Regions from separate parts of the Homo sapiens genome. Here region 2 is linked to region 1. Evidence: fine-mapped expression QTL. A gene starts in region 1. The other region holds a variant in brackets. All regions are shown on one strand. Distances are from middle to middle. Region 1 holds the start of KAT8 (lysine acetyltransferase 8). Region 2 has its middle 7.8 kb from the start of PRSS36.

The links.
Region 2: its variant is fine-mapped to the expression of KAT8 in fibroblasts (GENCORD, PIP 0.93).

Annotation. Positions count from the first base shown.
Region 1 is chr16:31,114,891-31,120,112 of GRCh38, forward strand. KAT8 (lysine acetyltransferase 8) reads left to right here and starts at 2,774. Exons shown (of 11, transcript NM_032188.3): 1 at 2,774-3,002. The coding sequence starts at 2,792. It also overlaps a transcript of BCKDK not described here. RefSeq lists silencers at 2,592-2,818, 2,718-3,067 and an enhancer at 3,238-3,357.
Region 2 is chr16:31,155,150-31,160,635 of GRCh38, forward strand. No RefSeq gene overlaps it. Among named protein-coding and RNA genes, the nearest start is that of PRSS36, 7.8 kb to the left of the region's middle. The variant A/AT (reference allele first, on the strand shown) is at 3,032.

The sequences.
Region 1 (5,222 bases):
TCCTTTCCTTTTCTTTTCCTCCCTTCCTCCCTCTTTTTTCTTTTTCTTTTTTGAGATGGAGTCTTGTTGTGTCGGCCAGGTTGGAGTGCAGTGGCGCGATCTCGGCTCACTGCAACCTCCACCTCCTGGGTTCAAGCAGTTCTCCTGCCTCAGCCTCCCAAGTAGCTGGGATTACAGGCACACGCCACCACCCCTGACTGTTTTGTATTTTCAGTAGAGACGGGGTTTCACAATGTGGGCCAAGCTGGTTTTGAACTCCTGACCTCAAGTAATCCACCTGCTTCGGCCTCCCAAAGTGCTGGGATTACAGGTGTGAGCCACCGCGCCCAGTCTTTTTTTTTTTTTTTTTGAGGCAGAGTTTCACTCTTGTTGCCCAGGCTGGAGTGCAATGGCACAATCTCAGCTCACCACAACCTCTGCCTCCCAGGTTCAAGCGGTTCTCCTGCCTCAGCCTCCCGAGTAGCTGGGATTACAGGCATGCGGCCACCACGCCTGGCTAATTTTGTATTTTTAGTAGAGATGGGGTTTCTCCATGTTGGTCAGGCTGGTCTCGAACTCCCGACCTCAGGTGATCTGCCTGCCTCGGCCTCCCAAAGTGGTGGGATTACAGGAGTGAGCCACTGCGCCCAGCCTCCTTTTCTTTCCCCCCTTTTTTTTTGAGACAGGGTCTCTGTCACCCAAGCTGGAGTGCAGTGGAGGGATTATAGCTCACTCAGCCTCGACCTCCTGGGTTTAAGCGATCCCTCTGCCTCAGCCTCCTGAGTAGGTGGGACTACAGGTGCGGGCCCCGAGGCCCAGCTAATTTTTTTTTTCCCCCAAATTTTTAGTAGAAAGGAGGTCTCTATGCTGCCCAGGCTGGTCTTGAACTCCTGGCCTGAAGCGATCCTCCTGCTTGGATTCCTGAAGTGCGAGATTACAGGTGTGAGCCACCATACCTCAACACTGTATTTTCAACCCGCTCTTCGTTCAATCTCCAAAGGTGGGACATGCGGATATGGAGGGCCGATTGTGTATGGTTGGACCATACACATATAAATGGCTTTAACCTTTACTGACTCTCACAGAACCCTCAGTGCAGTGGCGTGATCTCAGCTCACTGCAAGCTCCACCTCCCGGGTTCACACCATTCTCCTGCCTCAGCCTCCCGAGTAGCTGGGACTACAGGGGCCCGCCACCACGCCCGGCTAATTGTTTTGTATTTTTTTTTAGTAGAGACGGAGTTTCATCGTGTTAGCCAGAATAGTCTCGATCTTCTGACCTCGTGATCCACCCGCCTAGGCCTCCCAAAGTGCTGGGATTACAGGCGTGAACCACCGCACCCGGCCTTTTTATTTTTTTTGAGATGGAGTCTGGCTCTTGGTCCCCAGGCTGGAGTGCAATGGCGGGATCTCGGCTCACTGCAACCTCCGCCTCCCGGGTTCAAGCGATTCTCCTGCCTCAGCCTCCCGAGTAGCTGGGACTACAGGTGCGTGCCACCACGCCCGGCTAAATTTTGTATTTTTAGTAGAGACGGAGTTTCACGGTGTTAGCCAGGATGGTCTCGATCTCCGCCCGCCTCGGCCTCTCAAAGTGCTGAGATTACAGGCGTGAGCCACCACGCCCCGCCCAACTCGTCCTTTCTTTAGACTTTATCCTGTGAGGGTGAATTATGGCCTGTCCCTGGACACACCCGTTCTGCTTTCCCCGCACCAACTGTATCCCAAATAGGGGAAGTAGTCTCTTCAACCTTCAAAAATGGGGCACTGGCTGGGCACGGTGGCTCACGCCTGTAACCCTAGCACTTTGGGAGGCCGAGGCGGGCGGATCACCTGAGGTCAGGAGTTCGAGACCAGCCTGGCCAACAGGGTGAAGCCCTCTCTCTACTAAAAATACAAAAAATAGCCGGGCGTGGTGGCGCGCGATTGTAATCCCAGCTATTCAGGAGGCTGAGGCAGGAGAATCGCTTGAACCCGGGAGGCGGAGGCTGCAGTGAGCCGAGATCGCGTCACTGCACTCCAGCCTGGGCGACAGAGCGAGACTCCATCTCAAAAAAAAAAAAGGGGGGGGGGCGGGGAGCGACATTAGGCCAGCGCGAGTGTGCGGCTCCAGGCCACCAGGGCGGCCGCTCTGGCTCTGCCCTGTTAAAGTGGGGGCAGCGCCCGCTGAAAATTGGCACATCTTGGCTTCCGCAGGTACCAGGGCCTTTAAAAAGGTTCAGCTGGCCGGGCACGGTGGCTCACGCCTATAATCCCAGCACTTTGGGAGGTTGAGGCTGGCAGATCACGAGGTCAAGAGATCAAGACTATCCTGGACAACATGGTGAAACCCCGTCTCTACTAAAAATACAAAAATTAGATGGGCGTGGTGGCGCGCGCCTGCAGTCCCAGCTACCCGGGAGGCTGAGGCAGAGGAATCGCTTGAACCCGGAGGCGGAGGTTGCAGTGAGCCGAGATCGCGCCTCTGCACTCCAGCCTGGGCGACAGAGCATGATTCCGTCTCAAAATAAATAAATAAATAAATAAATAAATAAATTAAAAAAAGGTTGAGTTGAGTCATCGCATGAGGTAAGTCTGTCTCCTCTCCTCACCCATAGGCTGCAGCCACAGGTCCGCACGGAAAACCAGGAGCTCCAAGACTGCCGCACACTCAACATCCAACTCGCGGGGCCGCGGGGACGGCCACAGAAGCCAATCGGCTCCTGCTACATCACAGACCCCGCCCTCAAACCTTGAGGAGCCCGCCCCACGCACTGCTGACCCGGAGCCAAAAGAACTGCGTGGCGTCCGATTCTGGCGTCACTTCCCTTCCCGCGATGGCGGCACAGGGAGCTGCTGCGGCGGTTGCGGCGGGGACTTCAGGGGTCGCGGGGGAGGGCGAGCCCGGGCCCGGGGAGAATGCGGCCGCTGAGGGGACCGCCCCATCCCCGGGCCGCGTCTCTCCGCCGACCCCGGCGCGCGGCGAGCCGGAAGTCACGGTGGAGATCGGAGAAACGTACCTGTGCCGGCGACCGGATAGCACCTGGCGTGAGGGCGGGGCCCAGGGCTGGGGGCGGGGCGGAGCTCAGGGCCAGGGGGTGGGGCGGGGCCTGAGGACAGGCTGTCAGTGAGGCCAAGATCCGGGGGCTGGGAGTGGAGAGGAGGAGGGGCGGGGCTTGAGGAAAGAACGCCGCGTTCCGGGCGCTGAGAAACCAGCCGGGTTGTGGGAGGCTGTTGACCTTGAATTATGCCGAGCGACGCCTACAAACCCACCGCTCAGGCCTTCACCAGGATTGTTCCCATTCCACTTCCTTGCCCAGTCTTAGGCTTCATTCCTTTTTCTTGCTAACGCTGCTTCCTCACCCTCTCTTGTCTCTGCGTCTTCTTTTTCCATTTGTCCCTGGCAGCCATCCGCAGAGAGAAGACCTTCCAGAAACAACAGGCTTCCCTTTCCTAAAGTTCTGCTGCCTTCTCTCATTTTCAAAATTAACCCCAAACTCCTTAGGGTGGCATTCATTTTTGTGACCTCTCCAGTTTCTAGCCAACACTAGGAAAGGGCATTGCCAGGCCAGAACACACTGTGCCCTCTGAAGACCACACGCCCTTTACCACCTGTGCCCTTTGCTTGGAATGCTTTTTCTTCCCTTTCTCCTTGTTTGCCTGCCTAGCTCCTACTCATCCTCTTAGCTTCATATCCTTTGTGATGTCATCCTTGATTCCCCTTCAGGCAAAGTGAGTGGTTCCCTTCTCTATGTTCCTGCAACATTTTTTTCCTACCTCAGTCATAGTTTTTGTAACATTATGTTGTAATTTTCTCTCTCTGTCTTCCTCCATCATACTGGGAACTTCTGGAGGGCAGCACTTCTTGTGATTCATCACTGTGTCCTCTGTACCCGGCAACAACACAGCATAGGGCCAGACACGTAGTGGTTGCCTTACTCATTTATTGAATGCTCTGCTAATTGTCAGGTGCGCTGCTAAAAATTTTGGAGGCATTAATTCACCTTCTAAGGTTGGTACTATTATCCCTTTTGTCTTTTTTTTTTTTTTTTTTTTTGAGACAGGATCTCGCTCTGTCACCCAGGTGGGATTGCCGTGGCACGATGACAGCTCACTGAAGCCTAGACCTTCTAGGCTCAAGTGATCCTCCCACCTCACCCTCTCAGAGTGTTGGGATTACTGGCATGAGCCACTGTGCCCAGCTGTTATCCCTTTTCACAGATGAAGAGACTGAGGCTCAGAAAGATGGAATAACTTGCTCAGTTACACATAGCTAGGAAGTAGGGAGCTGGAATTTTGTGTATTTTTTTTTGTTTGTTTGTTTGAGATGGAATCGCTCTCTGTTGCCAGGCTGGAGTGCAGTGGCGCCATCTTGGCTCACTGCGATCTCTGCCTCCCGGATTCAAGCGATTCTCCTGCCTCAACCTCCTGAGTAGCTGGGACTACAGTTGTGCGCCACCACACCCAGCTAATTTTTGTATTTTTAGTAGAGACGAAGTTTCACCATGTTGGCCAGGATGGTTTTGACCTCTTAACCTCGTGATTCACCCACCTCGGCCTCCCAAAGTGCTGGGATTACAGGCGTGAGCCACGATGCCCAGCCCTGGAATTATACATTAATGTAGGTTATCTTAATCCAGAGCCAGCACTCATGATCCCTGAACAAATGAACAACTGCGGGTATGTGGTAAAATGAGCATTGAATTTAGAGTCAGACTTAAATTCAGTTAAGTATTAGCTCTTACCACTTTTCAAATCTGTGACCCTAGGTAAGCCTCAGTTTTGTTCTGTTTTTTGGGGTTCTTTTTTTTGAGACAGAGTCTTGCTCTTGTCACCCAGGCCACAGTGCAGTGGTACAATCTCGGCTCACTGCAACCTCTGCCTCCCGGGTTCAAGCAATTCTCCTGCCTCAGCCTTGCCTCCCAGGTTCAAGCAATTTTCCTGCCTCAGCCTCCCGAGTAGTTGGGATTACAGGTGTGTGCCACCATGCCTGGCTTTTTTTTTTTTCGTCTTTTTGGTACAGATGGGGTTTTGCCATGTTGACCAGGCTGGTCTCAAACTCCTGGCCTCAAGTGATCTGCCCATCTCGGCCTCCAGAAGTACTGGGATTACAGGTGTGAGCCACACACCCAGCCAGTTATTTTCTCATTCGTAAAATGAGAATAACAGCCTCAACCTGATCCACCTCACAGTTGTGGCAGTGATTGAGTAGAATGGCAGAGGTGGACCAGTGAGGTTAGCTGATGTGTGGCCCTGAACTCTGGAAAC
Region 2 (5,486 bases), 40 kb after region 1:
AAAAAAAAAGACCAGGCGCAGTGGCTCATGCCTTGTAATCCCAGCACTTTGGGAGGCTGAGGCGAGAGCATCACTTGAGCTCAGGAGCTTGAGACCAGCCTGGAAAACATAGTGAAAACTTCATCTCTATTCCTAAAAATAAAAATTAAGAAAAGATAACTGGCAGAATAGACGAAAGCTAAACATATGCCTGTATTTTGACCCAACAATCAAGATCCTAGGTATAGACCTAAGAGAAATGAGGGTGCCATAAGGCATATGCAGAGCATGGCACTCATAGAAGGTCTAGATACAAGAGCCAAGATCCAGAACATAAATGTCCGGCCCCAGGAAAATTGATAAATTGTGGCATAGTCATACACTGAAATACTATGCAGCAATAAAAAAGAATGAATTACTGATATCTGCAACAACATGGATGAATCTTACAGATTTTTTTTTCAACAAATATGTGTCATATTGCATGATTCCAATTATATGCAATTTAGGAACAAGCATAACTAATCCCCAGTGGTAGAAGTCAGAATAGTGGCCGGACACGGTGGCTCACACCTGTAATCCCAGCACTTTGGGAGGCTGAGGCAGGCGGATCACTTGAGGTCAGGAGTTCAAGACCAGCCTAGCCAACACAGTGAAACCCTGTCTCTACTAAAACACAAAAATTAGCCGGGTGTGGTGGCACATGCCTGTAATCCCAGCTACTCAGGAAGCTGAAGCAGAAGAATCGCTTGAACCTGGGAAGCGGAGGTTGCAGTGAGCCGAGATAGCACCACTGCACTCCAGCCTGGGTGACAGAGCAAGATTCCATCTCAAAAAAAAAAAAAAAAAAAAAAAGGAATCAGAATAGTGGTTGCTTCTGGTGGAAGTATTATATTATGTGGGAAGGAGCACAGAGAAACTTGCTAGAGTGCAAGAAAGTTCTAGATCTTGATGTAGGTGTGTATATACACAGGAATATACACATGCAGAGTTTCACTGAGCCGTACCCTTAAGATCAGGACTCTCTATGAACTTAGCTAGAGATGCTGAGGTGGGAGGATCTCTTGAGCCCAGGAGTTTTGAGACTAGCTTGGGCAGCATAATGAGACCCCATCTCTAAAAAAAAAAAAAAAAAAAAAAGTTTACACCTGTATCCCAGCACTTTGTGGGGCCAAGGCGGGTATATCCCCTGAGGTTGGGAGTTCAAGACCAACCTGACCAACACAGTGAAACCCTGTCTCTACTAAAAAAAAAAAAAAAATACAAAATTAGCTGGGCATGGTGGTGCATGACTATAATCCCAGCTACCTGGGAGGCTGAAACAGGAGAATCACTTGAATCCAGGAGGCAGAGGTTGCAGTGAGCTGAGATCGTGCCATTACACTCCGGCCTGGACAACAAGAGCAAAACTCCGTCCCCAAAATAAATAAAATAAAATAAAAATTAGCCAGGCATGGTGGCATGCACCTGTAGTCCCAGCTACTCGGGCTGAGGTAGAAGGTTCACTTAAGCCCAGGAGGTCGAGGCTGCAACGAGCTATGATTGCACCACTACACTCCAGCCTGGGTGACAGAGCGAGACTCTGTCTCAAAAAAGAAAAAAAAAAAAAAAAGAAAAGAAAAGAAAGAAAGAAGGAAAGAAAAAAAAAACTATATGGTTATTCCACATGAGTAAAAAGAAATTAAAAGAGGCAAAACACACTTTGCAAATAAATGGATTCCAGAGTCAATTAAGAAAAAGCCAAACGAACTAGCTCCAGAAATGCTTTCCTGGACCAAAAACGTTGGGAAAATGTGCAGCTTTACATCCGATAACACCAGGGCATGTGTGTAATGTTGTTTCTGAAAGCTTAGCTAAAATAATGAAACCCTTCAGCATTTGGAAAAACAAGAAAAGCATGCTTAACCAAAGATGTTGATATTATGTTTCCTGATAAAAGAGATCATGTTTTTTAAAGGATTTTGGTAACAGGTTACTTTTTTTCTGAATTGGCTTTGTCACTAAAATGTCTGGTTATCACTGACCTACAAAAAAAGGCATTCTTCAGATAATCCTTGATAGTATTGTTGCTCTCACCACACTTTCCAAAGGTGCTGACCAGAGGGAGCAGAAGACTGTTTCACAGCTCAAGCACACAGCCGCACGCGCTCCACACCAGCGAAGCCCAGCAGTGCCGCATCTCATCGTGAAAAGAGGAAGCCAGAAGCTGGGAGTCACTCCACTTCTGGTCAGGGCTGTTCTGTGGAATATACTGTGGGCAGGGCCACATGTCTCCTCGAAAAATAATCTGGGCTGTCTGTCCTCATGCACACCAGAATGGGTGCCATGACAGAGAAAGCTGCATTTTATTTTCATTTTTTATTTGAGACGGAGTCTCACTCTGTTGCTCAGGCTGGGGTGCAGTGGTGCAATCTCCACTCACTGCAGCCTTTGCCTCCTGGGTTCAAGTGATTCTCCTGCCTCAGCCTCCCAAGTAGCTCGAATTACAAGTGCCCACCATCATGCCCAGCGAATTTTTGTATTTTTAGTAGAGACAGGGTTTCATCATGTTGGCCAGGCTAATCTTGAACTCCTGACCTCAAGTGATCCACCCGTCTCAGTCTCTTAAAGTGTTGGGATTACAGGCGTGAGCGCAGCCACTGCAAACATTTGGTTTGTAAAACTCTTTTTTTTTTTGAGACGGAGTTTTGCTTTTGTCCCCCAGGCTGGAGTGCAGTGTTGCGATCTCAGCTTACTGCAACCTCTGCCTCCCGGGTTCAAGTGATTCTCCTGCCTCAGCCTCCTGAGTAGCTAGGATTACAGGTGTCCACCACCATGCCCGGCTAATTTTTTTGTATTTTTAATAGCGATGGGGTTTCGCCATGTTGGGCAGGCTGGTCTCCAACTCCTGACCTCAGGTGATCTGTCCGCCTCAGCCTCCCAAAGTGCTGGGATTATAGGCGTGAGCCACCACACCCAGCTGGTGTATAAAACTCTTAAAGCACGTGTCACTCCTTTTGGAGTGCCTGCTAAAATACAGAATACTTAGCTCAGTCTGAATTTGAGATAAACG[A/AT]TTTTTTTTTTTTTTACTATAACTAGGTCTCAGGAAATACTTGAGTTATATTGAAAATTATTTGTCGGGCCAAGTGAAGTGGCTCACACCTGTAATCCCAGCACTTTGGGAGGCTGAGGCAGGTGGACTGCTTGAGCTCAGGAGTTTAAGATCAGCCTGGGCAATATAGTGAGACCCCATCTCTACAAAGAGTTTTTTAAAAAATTAGCTGGATGTGGGCCAGGCGTGGTGGCTCAAGCCTGTGGTCCCAGCACTTTGGGAGGCTGAGGCGGGCGGATCACGAGGTCAGGAGATTGAGACCATCCTGGCTAACACAGTGAAACCCCGTCTCTGCTAAAAAGAAAATACAAAAAAATTAGCCGGGCATGGTGGCGGGCACCTGTAGTCCCAGTTACTCGGGAGGCTGAGGCAGGAGAATGTCGCGAACCCAGGAGGCAGAGCTTGCAGTGAGCTGAGATAGCGCCCCTGCATTCCAGCCTGGGTGACAGAGCGAGACTCCGTCTCAAAAAAAAAAAAAAATAGCTGGATGTGGTGGTGTGCACTTGGGAGCTACTTGGGAGGCTGAGGTGGGAGGATGGCTTGAGCCCAGGAGGCAGAGGTTGCAGTGAGCCATGCCACTGCACTCCTGCCTGGGCAACAGAACCAGACCCTATCTCAAAAAAAAATTATTTGTGTTTCCAATAGGCACAGGGCTCACGTCTGTAATCCCAGTGGTCTGGGAGGCTGAGGCAGGAGGATCACTTGAGACCAGGAGTTCGAAACTGCAGTGAGCTATGATTGCACCATTGCATTCCAGCCTGGGTGACAGAGCAAGACCCTGTCTTAAAAAAAAATTATTTGTGTTTACCTGAAATTCAGATTTAATCGGGCACTTATTTTATTTGCTAAATCTGGTTGGGAGTGGTGGCTCATGCCTATAATCCCAGCACTTCAGGAGGCTGAGGTGTGAGGATTACTTGAGTCTAGGAGTTCGAGACCAGCCTGGGCAACGTAACATAGACCCCGTTTGTACAAAATTTTTTTGTAAAATAAAAAAGGAGTAAAATAAAATTTTTTGCTAAACCTGGCAACCCTGTTCCCTATTCCATAATATTATCTTGCTAAGTCACTATATTGTTGCATATCTGCTTGGAAGAAATAACTTTTTTTTTTTTTGAGACGGAGTTTTGCTCTTGTTGCCCAGGCTAGAGTGCAATGGCACGATCTTGGCTCACTGCAACCTCCACCTCCTGGGTTCAAGTGATTTTCCTGCCTCAGCCTCCCCAGTAGCTGGGATTACAGGTGTATACCACCACTCCCAGCTAATTTTGTATTTTTACAATTTTGTATTCTGGAGTATTTTAAATACGATAGAGTATTGTATTTTAAATACAAAATTGTATTTTACAATTTTGTATTTTAGAGACGGGGTTTCACCCTGTTGGCCAGGCTGGTCTTGAACTCCTGACCTCAGGAGATCTGCCCGCCTTGGCCTCCCAAAGTGTTGGGATTACAAACATGAGCCACTTCGCCTGGCCAGAAATAACTTGTTCTCAGAAAAAACTTGGAGTTAGAATGTTATTCTATGAGGGACCCTCTGAGTGGGAATATTTGAGAGACTTGATAAAATTGGGAACATGTTGTGTGTTGACTCCACGCTTGACTGATATGATCAAGACATCCCCTTGGTGCTCCCTCTCGTGGCAAGAAGAGTAACTGCTCCTTCAATTTCACTCCCAGACTCTGCCCCCACCTCCCCACCCACCTCTTGGTCTCCAGGGACCATGCTGGTACCCTGAGCCTGTCGGAGCCAGAGATTGCCCCAGGACTCAGCGCTTTAGCCTCAAATGAGTTGCCCTACTTCAAAGGGACCTCACTTTGTGAGATGCACTGTATAGAATTTTTTTTTTTTTTTGAGATGGAGTCTCGCTGTGTCGCCCAGGCTGGAGTGCAATGGCATGATCTCAGCTCACCGCAACCTCTGCCTCCCGGGTTCAAGTGATTCTTGCCCCAGCCTCCCGAGTAGCTGGGATTACAGGCATGTGCCACCACGCCCAGCTAATTTTGTATTTTTTAGCAGAGACAGGGGTTCTCCATGTTGGCCAGGTTGGTCTCGAACTCCCAACCTCAGGTGATCCGCCCACCTTGGCCTCCCAAAGCGCTGGGATTACAGGTGTGAGCCACCGTGCCTGGCCCTAATTTTTGTATTTTTAGTAGAGACGGGGTTTCACTATGTTGGCCAGGCTGGTCTTGAACTATTGAGCTCAGGTTATCCACCTGCCTCAGCCTCCCAAAGTGCTGGGATGACAGGCATGAGCCACCGTGCCTGGCCATTGTATGCAATTTGGAGGGTGGTTCCTGAGACACAGAGAGAACAATCCGAGTTGGAGTCTGAGGAGGTGGCAGCTCATTGCTGGGAGAGAGACGTCCTCCTGCTTCTGAGGGGAGCAGTTTTGGGGTGCTCCTGCATAAACTG